2 separate regions of the Homo sapiens genome follow, and region 1 is linked to region 2. The links come from fine-mapping of genetic effects on gene expression. Tissue or cell type: whole blood. Region 2 holds a variant in brackets; the other region holds the start of a gene. All regions are shown on one strand. Distances are from middle to middle.

The links. PIP is the estimated chance that this variant, and not a neighbour inherited with it, causes the effect.
Region 1: SLC8A1 starts here. The variant in region 2 is fine-mapped to the expression of SLC8A1 in whole blood (TOPMed, PIP above 0.99).

Annotation. Positions count from the first base shown.
Region 1 is chr2:40,448,744-40,456,932 of GRCh38, reverse strand. It overlaps SLC8A1 (solute carrier family 8 member A1), which reads left to right and starts at 4,843. Exons shown (of 11, transcript NM_021097.5): 1 at 4,843-5,029.
Region 2 is chr2:40,522,179-40,530,367 of GRCh38, reverse strand. All of the region lies in intron 1 of LOC101929667 (a long non-coding RNA gene), which reads right to left. Among named protein-coding and RNA genes, the nearest start is that of SLC8A1, 74 kb to the right of the region's middle. The variant C/T (reference allele first, on the strand shown) is at 3,636.

The DNA.
Region 1 (8,189 bases), 73 kb after region 2:
TTTTTCATTACAGAGAGGAAAAGTACTCTCTTGATGTAGAAATGTATATTTTTCTGGATTATTCATTGCATAGAACTCTGTATAACAAAAACAACAGCATAATCAATATCAATAATTGGATGACCTGATTATGTAGAATCTAATTATATAGAAATTTTAAAATTTACATTGACATCATGTTTATGAAACTTTACCAGTAATAATAACAGCAATATCGTTTGCTGAGCAATTACTATGATCAGGAACTATGCCAAGCATCCTATATACATTTTATCCTTCCCACAGCACCTTGAGGGAGAGTTTATGATCCATGTTTTCCAAACAAAGATATTGAGATTTAAGAGGTTAAAAAGCTTCCCCAAGGTCACACAGCTGGATCTGAAAAATCTAACACAGATATTCTGACTCTAAAGCCTTGGCTCTTAACCAATCTGCTATTATTTTCTGACCTCTAAATTAATAGCTCTAGATAATGATTCTGCCATTGAGTTACCATTGATAAAGTTGCAGGACAGAGACTAGATATTTCCTTAATTTAATAAGGGGCAGAAATGAAAAACAGAAGTCTCAGAATTTTGTACAAACCCAATTCTTTTTTTTTTTTTTTTTTTTTTTTGAGACGGAGTCTCGCTCTGTCCACCCAGGCTGGAGTGCAGTGGTGTGATCTCTGCTCACTGCAAGCTCCGCCTCCTGGGTTCACGCCATTCTCCTGCCTCAGCCTCCCAAGTAGCTGGGACTACAGGTGCCCGCCACCACGCCCGGCTAATTTTTTGTATTTTTAGTAGAGACGGGATTTCACCATGTTAGCCAGGATGGTCTCGATCTCCTGACCTCGTGATCCACCCGCCTCAACCTCCCAAAGTGCTGGGATTACAGGCGTGAGCCACCGCGCCCAGCCCAAACCCAATTCTTTAATATCAGTTGCTCAAATGTAGAATTGCAGGTCCCTGATGTCCAAAGACTGTGACAAATTCATTGGCGACTCAGAGGAAGTGGTTGACCCCACGGTAATGCAGAGAGGAGGAGAGTTGTGACTGTGAGTCTGCCAGGAAGGCTGCCCCAGTCTGTGGACTGTTGTGCAGTAGCAGGGTTTACAACTGGGTGAGGTACAAGAGTGGTGTTCAGTTGGTCAAAACAAAACAGAGAAGTAAAAGTTTAACTGCAGGAACAAGTCTCCAGGGAAGAGGAACAACAGCACTTAGAAGTCAACAAAGAATTCTCAAAGTCATCCCCAAAGCAAAGAACCCTGGATCTACTCATCAGCAAAGAAAACCTAAAGAACAAAACTGGGAACCCAATGGTTCACCTGAGATTCTTAGGTATGGAAAAATGGCTAATTCTAAGCTCCACTCACTGGCCAGGCTAGGGGCTATTATGTAATAACATTTTCTTATGTAGAAATCACTATGAAACTGAGCCTGTGACTGAACAGATAGGTGATTAGTGAAGGCTGGCAGAGTAAGAAATGAGGTGAGGGACGACTAAGACTGTATTAACATATTTCAGAAGCCCGAAGCAATGGAAGAGACAATAGAGGTACCTCTGATTTATGTAATTCAAAGTAAAAATGAAAGGAATTTAAACAGAGTATTGTGCTTGTTTTCCCTATGATGAAAACATATTGAGTGCTTTAGTAAAGTATTAAATATTTTTAAAAATCTTGGTAACCTGATCACATGTCTAAATTTTCTATAGACTAGATAAAAAGTAGGGCCTAATTCACAATATTTACACTTGGTCTGAAAATGAGTTTGCTAACAGATCCCCTGAAGGTTTCCTAGGAAATAGTTTGTGAACATCAGAACATCTTTCGAATATATCAAATCTTAGTGATATCCCTGTGGAGTCCCCTGAATGGTTGTGTCGTATTGCTTTGGTTAGATAACAGTGGAGACCCGGTGACTCTTAATTCCAAGTCCAGAGGAAAGAATGGCAATCAATATGGAAGACTGCAATTAAGAAACATTACTGCTATTAGAATGTAAATTACCACCTTCCTCCATTCAACATGTCTTCTTTCCAAAGCCACAGACTGCAGCAGCCTCACTTTTTCCTTTCTTAGAGCCATAGTCTTCCTCAGCCTTGTGCCTGTGATGCAGCCTTTGATAATTCTCGCAATAAAAACTCACTCATGTATGACATTTAGGAGGGAGCAAAAGGTTTGATTTGCCTTGGGGCCCTGGAACCATTATAAAAATGCCTTTAAAGAGAAATGAAAGGCAAAGAAAATTAGGGGCTCAGAAACTGACTGAACCAAAAAGGATGCCAAATCACTAGGCACTAGGCTGCCTCTCCAATAGTTCTAGATAAACAGAAGACCATTTAATATTGTTTTTTTCCCAAGAATCCAAATCAGTCTAAAAGCAGTTTCGATTGGAAAAGAGGAAGAATCAAGTGGCCAAGATGTAGCCTTTCAGTTTCAATGGTCAAAGCAAAAAAAAAAAAAAAAAAAGTCTTAAGACAGACTTTGGGCATCACTGGAGTATAAACATTTAAAGAACAGGGTTCTTGTCACTCCATGTCACAAACATGCCTAAAATTTCAAGAAAATCTCAGCTTTCACTAAGCGGCCCGTCATAGCAATAAGAGGCTACACTCTTTCCACAAAATCTATTCCAGTGAAATATGGCCCACTCACATTTTCATTTAGCTTTCTCTTGGTTCCTTCATTTGGCTGTGTTCTATTTCCTATTGAGTGGAGTCTTTAGTTATAAGCTTTCCTTAGTGTTATTTAGAAGGCAGCCACTTTTCTCTCCAAGCCCCTTTCATTGAGTGTGAGCCAAATATCTGCTACTCACACTGCCTTAAATTCAGGGACTCTAAGTAATTTTTGGTAGAGGACATATTCTAAAAGAGACAGTGACCTTCTGTCTCTCCCCACAGGTCATTCTGTTTATATCCACTAGTAAGTGTAGTCTAACCAAGTTGGTGTGGAAAGTAGCTTCCAAGAAAATTTAACTTATAGCAAGGAAAGAAAAATGTTCTTAGGCAAGAACGATTCCTGCAAATTTTATAAGACGTGAAGCAGCTTAGAGTGTCCTCTACAAAGCCAGTATCCAAGACTGCTGGCAACAGACCCGACTAATTAAAGTGAGGTCCTCATTCAGACGGCCTCAGCATCACTTCAACACTTGCCTACCCCAGGCCTGCTCCAGGTCTATTGAAAAAGAATCTGCAATCCCCATGTGATTCATACTCACATTCATGTTTGAGGAGTATTGGCCTAGAGCAGTGGTTCTCAACCTTCATTGCACATAGGAATCAACCAGGCATCTTAAAAACAAATTAAGGCTGTCTGGGGCCCACCTGCAGAGAGTCAAAGTTAATCAGTTTGGGGGTGTGGCCTAAGCACTGGGATTTTTAAAAACGGCCCAGGAGATTCTGAGGTGCAAGGAGGGTTGAGAGCCACTGGCACAGGGGCAGAAGAGGCTATTTCTTCCATTCCGCCCCCTCTTTGTTGCGGAGGCAAACTGAGGTTCCTGGAGTCAGAATCTATCAGTCGTGGTGACTGCCCTGGTTGCACTGTAAGTATGGGGGGACGTCTCCACGAAAAAAAACTAACTTTCTGCCTTGTGCTCTGCAGGTCCCTCCTTCTCCCACCTTCCCCAAGTAGCTGCTCCTGACCCCCCCACACACCTTGGCAAACGACACCAGTGGCCGATAGCAACTGGTGTTTTAAAAATACTAATTTGGAGCCCCATTTGAGACCTACAACGGGAGAGTCTGCATCAGATTCGGCCTCAGATTCTACAGCATCTGACTACATTCCCAGGTGTGTGTGATGCGCAGCCAGGTTTGGAAGCTAGTGAACTCCACAGTAGGTCTAGCCTTTCACCACGTGAAGTCATTAAGGGTTTGTAAGAATGAATGAGCTGTCAAGAGAGGAAAGGCCTGGTGCAGTGTTCCTTTATTAATTATGAGGAAAGTGATTTATTGGCAATGATAATGCTTCTCTTGGAAAGGGCAAAGAATGGTTCGTCGATTGCTGCATTAGGTTTTTTCCCACTCAACCTTAATGCTCGGCTTTTACTCCTCACTGTAGTTTAAAACCAGCACGCCTTTCACACGAAACAGACTCTGGGTCTTTATTCCCAGGTGAAACGCATCTTTGAGGGAAATACCAACACAGAGACTCTGTCCCAGTTCTTGGCCGGGGGACACCCTCCCCCGAATATCTCTGTTTGCTTGTGTCAGCATCTAGTAGCCAACGTATAGTTGTGCATATCTGATACGTAGAAAAACACAGGGTGAGGATTAAAAAAAAAATCATTGATATATGCCCAGATCCTTTTGCTAAAAGAAAGCTTCCTTTAGCAGAAGGGCAGGAAGTGAGGGAAGAAAGATAGTTGGATTAACAAAGTCAGAGGTGAGAAACGGGTAGGCGAATTGGGGGTCAGGGTTCTGTCTGCGGAAGAGAAGAAGAGGGTTCAAAAGAAAAGTTGCAGCGCCTGTGTGCGCGTGTCATCGATGGGCTGGGTGCGAGAGACAGCGCTAGCGCGCGGCCACAACGCACTGCGGGGCCGAGAGCCGGCAGGAAATCGAAAAAGCTGCTCGCCGGCAGAGGCTGGGAGGCTGGAAGGGCTCCCCACCCGCTCGGTGCTCCAGAAACGCGCCGGCTTTGCCCCGACGCGATCGCCTGGGGAGCCCAAGGGGCGCGCAGGGGGCCCCGGGGCGCCCGGCAGCCGCGGGGCCGAGCGCGCGTGTGAGCGAGTGCGAGGCTGCGGGCGGCGGGCGGGCGAGTGTGCGCGGGAGGGAGGGGGAGCGCGCGCGCGCCCGGGCCCCGGCCCTCCCAGCCTCCCGGCCTCCGCGCCTGCCTCCCGCCCGCGCGCACCGCTGCCCGCTGCCGCGGCTCCCGCTCGCGCCGGCGCTGCACGGTAGTCAGCCCGCCGCCGCCGCCTGCTTTGTGCTTCCCACAGAAGATGGGAGCGACCTCTTCCTGATCGGGAGCTGTTTAAAAGGAGGGAGTGCGCCGTATTTTCTACTAGCGTGGAGGAACGGAGGAAGAATCCATTCACACTCCCCAAACCAGGTAGGATCTTATGATGGACAGGCAGAAGGCATTTAGTCAGAGACCAAGAACTATTTTCCATTTGCTGCTCATAAGGCTACACTTCCCTCTGCTTTGGCAAACGAGCGGCTTCTAAATTTGTGTGTGTGTGTGTGTGTGTGTGTGTGTGTGTGTGTGTGTGTGTGTGATGTGGTGTGTGCGCGCCTGCACATTTTTCTGGGTGTCCGCGCTTCCCAGAGTGAAATTGCTCGGGCTGGTGCGTCTGGGCGTGAGGGTGCCTGCCTGCCTGCCAGTGCAGGCTGCCGGAGGAAGAAAGGGCTGCTAAGGAGAGATGCTGCACCCTGCACCGCGCTGGGCTCTGAGGATTCAGGGCGCGAAGAGCTAAGTCCACCCCGAATGCAGAGCTGCTGGGGATCCAGGCGTCCCCACCCACTGGACTCTTCTCCGCGGACATCCCTCCTTCCGGTAATCCCTGGGGTCTTTCCCCAAGGCCACATTTCCGAGCCCCCTGTTTTCCAGCGGGCGTTGGGTGCTCATTCACCACGGACTGCGGAGAGGAGGGAGGTGTGGCGGGGCAGAGACAGACGAGGAAGAAATGTAGGGGGTAGCAGGGAGTGGGCTGCGGGGTCCACGTCTCTGGGCACTGTGCCGTGGTGTGCTTTGGGGATTCTGCACACACAGGCATCTTTCCCCAAGAGATTGGAAGGGAACTTTGCAGCTGCATTCTCTGCCTCTGGAGCTTTGCTGGCTCTTGGGGGAAATGGTCTGTGTTCTGAGATGTGAAGATATCCTTTTTGGCTCCTCCTTAATGAAGAAGAGGGCGGTCTTATAGCTGGACAGCCGGCCAAAGAAACCAAATCCGCCCAGGCGATGCTCTTGAAAATACAGTACGTGTGCATCCTTGATTCTTTAAATCCACCCCCTGCATCACCCCCGCCTCTTCTCTATCCCCCCCACCACCCCGTGGATTCTGTTGCTGTTTGATGAATGGCTTGGGCTGGCAATTTGTATTTCCCTCTCCAAAGTGGTAGTGGTTGAGTTGAGAACAGGGGTGATGAAATTTAACAAAGCATTTTTAGAAGAGAGCAATGTGCATGTTGTACGCAGTCATTGGAAAGTCATGCTTTGCGCTAGGTATCCTTTTGAAGCCCCCGAACCTGGCTCTCCTGAAGCCGCTCTCTCTCTCTCCTGCTAGTCAGCTACTAGTGGTTGTGAATATAACAATACAAACTTTGTCCTGCTGGAGGTGTAAAGACTAAAAAGAGAAAAAAAGGATATCAGTGGGAGGTGTAGTGGAAGAAGCTTTTTAAAAAATGACAGATGTGGTGAAGACAGTACAAGCGTCCTGATCATGGAGGAGCCTCTAGCTGAGTAGGTGGAGATTTCTGATCAGATCTGGTTAAAGGCATTGCTGGAGTATCTCCAGATATGAGCAGTTGAACATGCACAATCTGAGACTTGTGCGAAGATTTCCCAAGGGAAAGAGGGAGCCACCAGGAGAGAATTCTGAAAGTATACCTCTCTTTCCCATGCCCCCACCAGCGCGCGCGCGTGCACACACACACACACACACTCACATGCTTTCTCTTTCTCTCTCAAAGCTACTCCTGCAGCGAGTCAGAAAAAAAAAGGAAAATGAATCTAGATGTTTCATTCATTTCAAATAAGAAGACAAAGCCGGAAGAGGGATGATTGGTTTTAGGTTCCTCTTTCAAATCCTGTGTTACTTGGATTGAGCTCCCTGGGTTTGCTAAACTTGCTTAATTGGGAGGTTAGGCGGGTGTGAAAGCAGGAGGAAGGAAGGGAAAACTAGCTCCATCTTTGGGGCCTTGTGAGTGAGAAGGTGGGGGAGGACCAACTTATTTCATCAAGAGGCAAGATGTGTGCTCTTAAATGGTTTTCGTTTTACAAATTCTGCCTGCTTGAAGAATTCCATTTGGATCTCACGGCTCTTTAGCTAAGATTTCTCACACCTGCTATAAAAGAAGCCCTGATTTTGTCCCCTTAAAATGGTTGTTGTCTTTTTTTAAAAAAATGATTAATTCCTAGAAAAACAACAGCAACAAAAAGGACTGAACAGAGATAAACCATTATTTATTGTTGAGCTGTATAGGGCTACAAAGGATGTAAGAGTGTCATGATAATCAGACTTTACTGTCTTGAAAGCTTAACAGGGCTGAAGGAGGAGAGTAATGAACTAAAATATGAAGGCTTATTTTCTATGTATCTATCTACCTATGTCTTTACTTTAATATTATTATATAGTGGTTCCTACTGTAACGTTTCAGATTAAGCACATAGCCCTTTTGTTGACCAGGGGAAGAAAAGAGCATGGGAGTAACAGTGCTTTGACTCCCAATAAAATTACAAATGGAAAGTGAGGTATAGTCAGTAACATCTATAGGACTATTTGCAGGAATTATGTTAATTGCTCTGTTAAGCTTTCTGTGTTTTGAAAAAATAAAATATATTCCAAGAGAACTTCAGCATCTGTTAAAAAGCTATGTTTAACATGCTTTTGCCAGGCAAATATAGACTTTTATTTACTTGCAAAATAAACACATGATTCCTCTTAGTATTCAATCTATTTCTTTGACAAAATAAATGATGAGAAAAGCTGTGCAGATCCAAGGAAGTTGCAATTCCCCTTTAAAAAGCCAGCCAAGGCATTCATTTAGCTCATAGATGTGGTTGTCTCAAAGTAAGTGCATTTTGGGACATTAATGTCTGTGTGTTTTTTTTTGTTGTTGTTTTTTGTTTTTTGTTTTTTTTTTTTAATGTTGCAATTCAGTGAGACAAGTTCTTTCTTTGTGATGCCTTTTAGGTACAGGGAGGATAGTATATAGATAAGAAGGAGACTGCCCTAAAAATATGGCAATAAACAAAATTCAAACTGAAATATAAATTAGATCTGGAAAAAGAAATGCAGCCTCTAGAAGAGGCTGTTAGAGCACATATGTTGCATGTTTTATATTTTCGTAGTATGTTGCTTTCAAGTAAACATTAAATTGTCACTTTATATTTGCTAAGAATTTAGGAATCAACATGCTATTATCTCTCTACTCTTCCTGGTCCCTTTATCTTTTTGTTTTTGCCCCCAAGGATAAATGTGTTTTGCTAAAATATTATCCAAATATCACCCATACTTGTAGTTAAATCCTTCATCATAACCTCCCATACC
Region 2 (8,189 bases):
GACCAAAAAGGCAATGGCTCTCAACCCTGGTGGCACAAAGAAAAATTTTGAATGCCTTGACCATTTCTCCAAAATTCTGATTTAATTGACCTAGGGAGGGTGTCTGAACATAGTCCTACTCCTCCCTTCCTTCATTTTTTACTTCCTTTCTTCTTCTCTCTCTTTCTGCAGCTATTTGGATGTGAGGTGATAAGGGCCTGAAATAGAATAGTAGCAATCAAAATGGAGAATAAATTTACATAAAGAGACATTGTTAAGGGAAAAAAATGACAGCTATCTTGACTAATAAAACCTAGCTGAACTTAGGAAAAAAATCTTTCACACATCAATGAAAACTACCGTCTTACAAGGCTAGCGGTCTATTTTTCTGTTAGAGAAAAGAGAGACAATGATGGTTAACAGTAAATTAACCAAAATATTTACTAAATCACAAATTAGTATCAATAACAACAGAAAGCCCCCTCCTACCTCAAATTTCTCACTTACTTGTTTGAAAAAACCTTCTGGCTCCCCATTGGCTCTGGTAAATTCTAATCCCCTTAAGCTGTCATGTAGAGCTTTTCTTTTATTTTTTTATTATACTTTAAGTTCTGAGATACATATGCAGAACCTGCAGGTTTGTTATATAGGTATACATGTGCCATGGTGATTTGCTGCACCCATCAACCCCTCATCTACATTAGGTATTTCTCCTAATGAAATCCCTTCCCTTACCCCCTACCCCCCAACAGGCCCCAGTGTGTGATGTTCCACTCCCTGTATCCATGTGTTCTCATTGTTCAACTCCCACTTATGAGTGACAACATGTTGTGTTTGGTTTTCTGTTCCTGTGTTAGTTTGCTGAGAACGATGGTTTCCAGCTTCATCCATGTCCCTGCCAAGGGCATGAACTAATCCTTTTTTATGGCTGCATAGTATTCCATTGTGTTTATGTGCCACATTTTCTTTGTCCAGTCTATCATTGTTGGGCATTTAGGTTGGTTCCAAATCTTTGCTATCATCAGAGTGAACAGGCAACCTACAGAATGGGAGAAAATGTTTGCAATCTATCCATCTGACAAAGGACTAATATCCAGAATCTACAAGGAATTTAAACAAATTTATAAGAAAAAAACAAACAACCCCATCAAAAAGTGGGCAAAGAATATGAACAGACAATTCTCAAAAGAAGACATTTTTGTGGCCAACAAACATATGAAAAAAAGCTCATCATCACTGGTCATTACACAAATATAAGTCAAAACCATGATGAGATAGCATCTCACACCAGTCAGAATGGCAGTCATTAAAAAGTCAGGAAACAACAGATGCTGGAGAGGATGTGGAGAAATTGGAACACTTTTACACCGTTGGTGGAAGTGTAAATTAGTTCAGCCGTTGTGGAAGATGGTGTGGTGGTTCCTCAAGGATCTAGAACCAGAAATGCCATTTGACTCCAGCAATCCAATTACTGGTATATACCCAAAGGATTATAAATCATTCTACTATAAAGACACATAACTGGATGGAATATCAACGCAGAGGAAATTTAACCTTGATCGAAATGTTTTTAGCCGAACAATAAATGTGGAGATTTACTATTGTTGATGATGATGTCATTATGAATTCATACATTAGAAATGTAACTCAAGTGAAAAGTGAACTTATATAGGATTCATTTGGAATGAATAGGAAAATATATTGAGATGAATGGGAAAATAAGCCTATATCGGATTCATTTGGAATACATTGGAAAAATCAGAGCAGAAACTCTTTCCAAGAAAGAGACAATGGACATCATGGGAACAGTGTTGTGAGAAAAAAAAATTCTACTGGATTCAAGAGATATTTGTAATGAGCTTACGGAATTTGTGGTGACTTAAATACTTGGTGGGTAGAGAAGGAATGAATGTCACTGAACTTTCCAGTTTGAGAGACTGAAAGAGTGGCACCACCATTTATAATGAATGAATCAATGAGACAATGAGAAATGGTTTGATTGGGAGAGAGTTAGGAAGTTTAGATTAGGATTTGTTTTACTTGAGGTCACTGCAGTAGTTCCTGGAGAAAAGGTCAAATACAGTGAGAAATGTAGAGTACAGAAGGAAGAGTGTTGTAAAGAGAAACAAAGATTTAAAACTTCAAAGCTTATTCATCGTAGTTGTGATCATGAAAATTAATGAAATAAGGGCAGAGAAAGAAATAGAAAAGAAGCTAGAATAGATGTTGAGTTTTGTACCTGACACCTAGTTGATCTTCGAGTCAGATATTAAAATTGAAAGCACAGGCCTATATTTTTAGAAGAAAGCCATAAGAAAGCTTGTGGACCTGTAATTTGTAGATTAACTGTATTTTTAAATAATGACATAGATTTTGCCACATTTAACAAAAAATGTTATCTAAGGAGTTAATTGAAGTAAACTGACAATTCTTAACTTTCTGTGGAATTCAGCCTTGAATGTTAGCATCCAAAAATGTGAGGATTAAAACATTTTATTGAAACTCTAATTAGTTTGAGGTAATTAATAAAATTTTAAGGTAATTAATAAAAATAATAAATATAATAGTTAATAATAAATTTTAAGGTAATGACTAAAATCATTCCAGTGGAAATGATTACCAAATCCCAAGGTCTATTAAATTTTAAGTATGATAGGGTTGGTTATAATATTGATGCTTTCACAATCTTTCTGACTTGACACAAAATCCACAGCTATGTCCAGGAATTCTCATATTTTTAATTTATTTTTATTTATTTTTTTGAGACAAGGCCTCACTATATTGCCAAGTCTGGTCTCCAGTACCTAGGTTCAAGTGATCCTCCTACCTCAGCCTCCTGAGTAACTGGGACTACAGGTGCATGCCACAGTGCCAGACTTCTCAATTTTTTTTAATCCCTGGATTGAAAATCGAAACATAGTACAACATAATGCTAAAAAGCTAAAAAGCTTGTAAATATTTTTTTTTTGAGACAGAGTCTTGCTCTGTTGCCCAGGCTGGAGTGCGATGGCACAATCTCGGCTAACTGCAACCTCTGCCTCCCAGGTTCAAGCAATTCTTCTGCCTCAGCCTCCTGAGTAGCTGGGATTACAGGCGTGCACCACCACGCCCAGCTAATTTTTTATTTTTTTGGTTTTTTTAATTTTTTTAGTAGAGACAGAGTTTCACCATGTTGGTCAGGCTGGTCTCGAACTCCTGACCTCATGTTCCACCCACCTAGGCCTCCCAAAGTTCTGGGATTACAGGTGTGAGCCACCGTGCCTGGCCAATAATTTTTAACTTAAACTTCTGAATAGCTCCTATTATGCTCAAATTTATATATCATCCTTTAAAGTTGCAATCCATTTTGTTTGTTTGTTTGTTTTGTTTATATTTTCTCATTTGTCTTCTTCCTGGGAATACTTATCAAATCTAATGCTAACTAAAGGGATGAGGCATTTGATTCCCCCAGCCATAGGGCAAACACAACTAGTTTTACGTGTACTTTGTGGTAGAAAAATGAGTAAGTACTTCTGAAGACATAGTTGGTTGAAACTTCTCCTTCCAAAAAGATGGAATAGACATACGTTTCCCTATTTCTCACACTAAGTACAACTAAAAACCCAAGACACTATACAAAAATGAACATAAAACTCTGAGAAGTAGAGAGAAGAAAG[C/T]GGGCTAGTAAGGGGGTCTTAAAACCCATAAATGACATGATAATGAGTTCCCTTTCATCCTCTTTATATCATATATCCCAGACTTAAAGCCAGAGATAAGAAGAAAAAAAAAGAAAAAGCCCAAACACAAGTCTGCTGTCTTTGGCCAAAGGACAAATAAAGGAGTTGAATGGAAAGACAGAGAAATTTTAGACAATAACTTCTTACTTCAGCTGACTAGCACCTCAACAAATGCCAACAAAGGCCAAGTAGAACACTTAGACTTCCATCGTCCCCAGTCTGTCATGAGGGTCCCATAACATCTGCCAAGGTGCTGCCAGAGAAGACTGAGTAAGGAGTTGGGACCTTCATAGTCACCACCTACAACCATCTCATGCCCCAGTGAGGGTCAATGGAGAGAGACCACTTGGAGAGCCTGGATTTCCACACCCATCAAGTAGTATGAGCCATCCCTACTTCTCCTCACTAGGGTGATTGTGGAGGCATAGAGAGAGGCAGAACTTTCACCATTGTCCAATGGTAATGGTGTTACTTCTCCCTCTTGGTGTCATGGATACCATAGGGGAAGCATTTAGTACAATGAGTCACTATAACTTCTCCCACTAGGGAGTATCAGTGGAGGCCTAGTGGAGAGCCAACTCTCTTACCTACAATCAGCGATAATGAAGACCCATTCCTCTGGTGTCAATGGAGGTCTAGTAGAGAACCTTGTCATTAACTCCCACTTGGTAATAATTAGCCAGCAATTCCCCATCCCCACCAGCATCGTGTCAGAGGAATCAAGTTAATACAGAGATTTATGTGAGATTCAGTGTTATAATATAAAGCTCAAACTGTACATATTTCTGTCAAAAATTACTTATCATATCAAGAACTAGGAAGATCTCTGAATAAGTGAAGAAAAGACAATCCAAGATGCAAGCTATGAGAAGACAAATATATTAGGATAATCGACCAAATATCTAATGCAACCATTATGAAAACATTTCAATGAGCAATTACAAACATGCTTGAAACAAATGAAACCATGCAAAGTCTCAGCAAAAATATAAAAGATATAAAGAAGAAAAATGAAAAGTTTAGAGTTGAAAAATATTATAATGTAAGAAGCTTAATGGATGAGCTTAACAGCAGAATGGAGGAGGCAAAGGGAAAATTAGTAAATTAGAAGGTAATTAGAAGAAAAATATAAAAATTACCAAATTTACACAACAAAGAGAAAACAGGCTGGAAAACAGTATACCCTTATGGATATGTGGAACTATAATCTGACTTTGGGTCATTGACGACTCAGAAGGAGAGGAGAAAAAGGATGATGCTGAGAAATTAGAAATAGAAGAAATAATGGCTGAAAACTGCCCAAATTTGACAAAAGATGTAAATCTACAGTTCAAGAAGCTGAATGAATCCCAAACAGGATAATCTCTCACACATACACAAAAAAAGCTACATAGTGAAACTTCTGAAAACTAAAGGAAAAGAAAAAAATCTCAACAGTTGTGAGAAAGAAATAATACTTTTCTTTCTAAGGAAAAAACAACTTGAATGACAGTGGATTTCTCACCAGAAACTATGGAAGACAGAAAGAAGTGGCAGATAATTTTTAAAGTGATATAGAAAATAATCTCTTAAGCCAGGATTCTATACCTAGTGAAAATATCTTTCAGAAATGAACAGGAAATTAATATATGTGTAGACTAAAACAAACAAACAAACAAAAAAAAACAGAGGCAATGCTTGCTGGTAGACGTCTCCTAAAAGAACAGCTAAATGATGTTCTTTAAACAGAAAGGAAATAGTTTTGTTTTTTTTTTTAAAAAAAAGGAATGTTCAAATATCAGGAAAGAGGGAAGAACATGGTAAACAAAACTACAAGTAAATTCAATACAATTTTATTCTCCTCTTCTGTTTTCTAAATTATGTTTTATAATTGAAGTAAAAATTATAAAACTACCTGGTATTATTTTAAATCTATGTAGAAAAAAATACTTAAGATAATTGTAATATAAATGTGGGAGTGTAAAAAGATATAAAGAAAGGTAGAGCTTCCAAATTTCACTCAAACAAACAAAATGATGACACTGGTAGACTGTTATAAGTTATCTATACATAATATATAGTAACACCTAAAATAATCATGAAGACAACAATACAAAGAGATATATTCAAAACATTAAAGATAAATAAAAATTGAATTTTTAGAAAGTTTCATAAATGTAAAGGAAAGCAGAAAAAACAGTAAATGAAAAACAAAGAAAACAAATGGAAAACAACAAAAAAAGAGAAACTCAACTCTAGCATATTAATACTTGCATTAATGGCGTAAATGTTCTAAATACATCAATTAAAAGCCAGAGATTGGCAGAGGTGATTAAAAGACATGATCCTGTCTACAAGAAACTCACTTCAAATGCAACAATATAGGAAAGTTAAAAGAAATGAGGGGAAAATACACATCATGCAAGCATTACTCAAAAAAAGCAAGTGTGGCTATAATTATTGCAGATGCAGTAGGCTTCAAAGCAAAGCAAAGCAGCAGAGACAGAGAATGACAAGGGTCAATCAACCAAGAAAATATTGCAATCCTAAATGTGTATCTTAGAATTGAAACAAGAAATAGACAAATCAAGAACTACAGTTAGAGACTTCAACACTCGTCTCAAAAACTGATGGAATAACTGGATATATTATCAGCAAAGAGATAGGACTTAAAAATACCACCAAGAAAGAGAATCAATTCCTTGAAAAACACAAATTACCACAATTTATCTGATACAAAACAGATCACTTGAATAACTCTCTAACTACTAATAAAGTTGAATATGTAGTTTTAAAATTCCTCCCCCAAACCATCTCCAGGCACAGATGGTTTCACTGGAAAATTCAACAAAATGTTTAAAGAAAAATTCACACCGATTCTATACAATGTCTGCCATAAAATAGAAGAAGATGAACGCTTCCAATTAATATTTTGAAGCTAATTCACCTTAAGTCTCACAACTTCTGCAAAAATTAACTCAAAATAGACCATAAACTTAAATGTAAAACATAACAATATAAAAGTTTTAGAAAAAAATACGAACAATCTTCAGGGTTTAGAGCGAGGCAAAGGTTTTTCTTAATTAAGCACCAAAAATAATCCATAAATGATAAAATTGGTGAATTTTTATAAAAATTTAAAACTAATCCTCTGTGAAAGTCTCTTAAATAAATAAAAAGGTAATCTATAGACAGGAGAAAATATTTACAAGTAATATACCTTTCAAAGGACTAATATCTGAAAACTCAAAATCAACAGTTTGAAAAATCTAATTAAAATATGGGCGAAAAAATTGACATTTGATCAAAGAGCATATGGCAAATAAGCACATAAAAAGTTGATCAAGTATTAGCCACTGGAGGAATGCACATTAAAACCACAATGAGAGATATACTAACCAGAATAGCTTGTAACCAAATGATTACAAGGTTATAGGAAAACTGGATCAATCATATGTTGCTGCTTGGAATGTAAAATTATATAGGCACTCTAGAAGACAGGAAGTTTCTTAAAATATTAAACATGCTGCCACCATATGACCCAGCAGCTATAATCCTGGACATTTATCCTAGAGAAATGAAAAGTTTATGTTTACATAAAAACCTTACACAGATGTCCACAGTAGTTTTATGTGTGATAGCTAGACAGTGAAAACAACTCAGATGTTCTTCAACAGGTGAATGGTTAAACAAACTATGGCATATCCCATGTAATGGAATACTACCAACAACAACGTGGAAATTTCCAAAAATAAGAATTACAGCAAAAATTGAGAAGACAATGTAACCCTATAATCTGGACGCTGAAGGTGCTTGATAAAAGCATGTCTATGGAAGCTTAAACTGGCAGAGATGTGTACTATATCCTGGAAATAGGATAATTCTTAAAATTAGTTGTCCATTGTAAAAGTGGAGGCTGATGTGATAATTGCCGCATTATTTCCCCAGGTGATCCCGAAAACAGCTCTGGGGTCTGACCACGTGTGCCTTTTTTAGTTGTTTTGTTTTTTGTTTGTTTGCTTCCTTTTTCCTTTTTTTTTTTTTTTTTAATTTGTACAAATTTAAGGAGTACATGTGCAGTTTTCTTACATGAATAAATCACATAGTAGTGAAGCCTGGGCTTTTAGTGCATTAATCACCCGAATAATGCACATTGTACCCATCAAGTAATTTCTCATCTCCCACCCCTTCCCACCCTCCCGCCCTCCCAAATCTCCAATGTCTATCATTCCCCATTCTATGTTCATGTGTACACATTTTAAGCTCTCACTTATAAGTGAGAATACGCGGCATTTGAATTCTTGTTTCTGCATTGATTGTTTTGCTGAAAATAGTGGCCTCCAGTTTGATTCATCCTTTCACTTCACTTGTAAAGTAGACAAATGGTAAGTTTTGGCCAAAATAAATCCTTACTTAGATTGGCCTTGTCAGCTAATACTTTCATCATTTTCTCTGGATTGAGCGGGATTCCTGGTTGTAACTTCCTTTAGTTAGATTATCCAAGCTTTTTTGGAA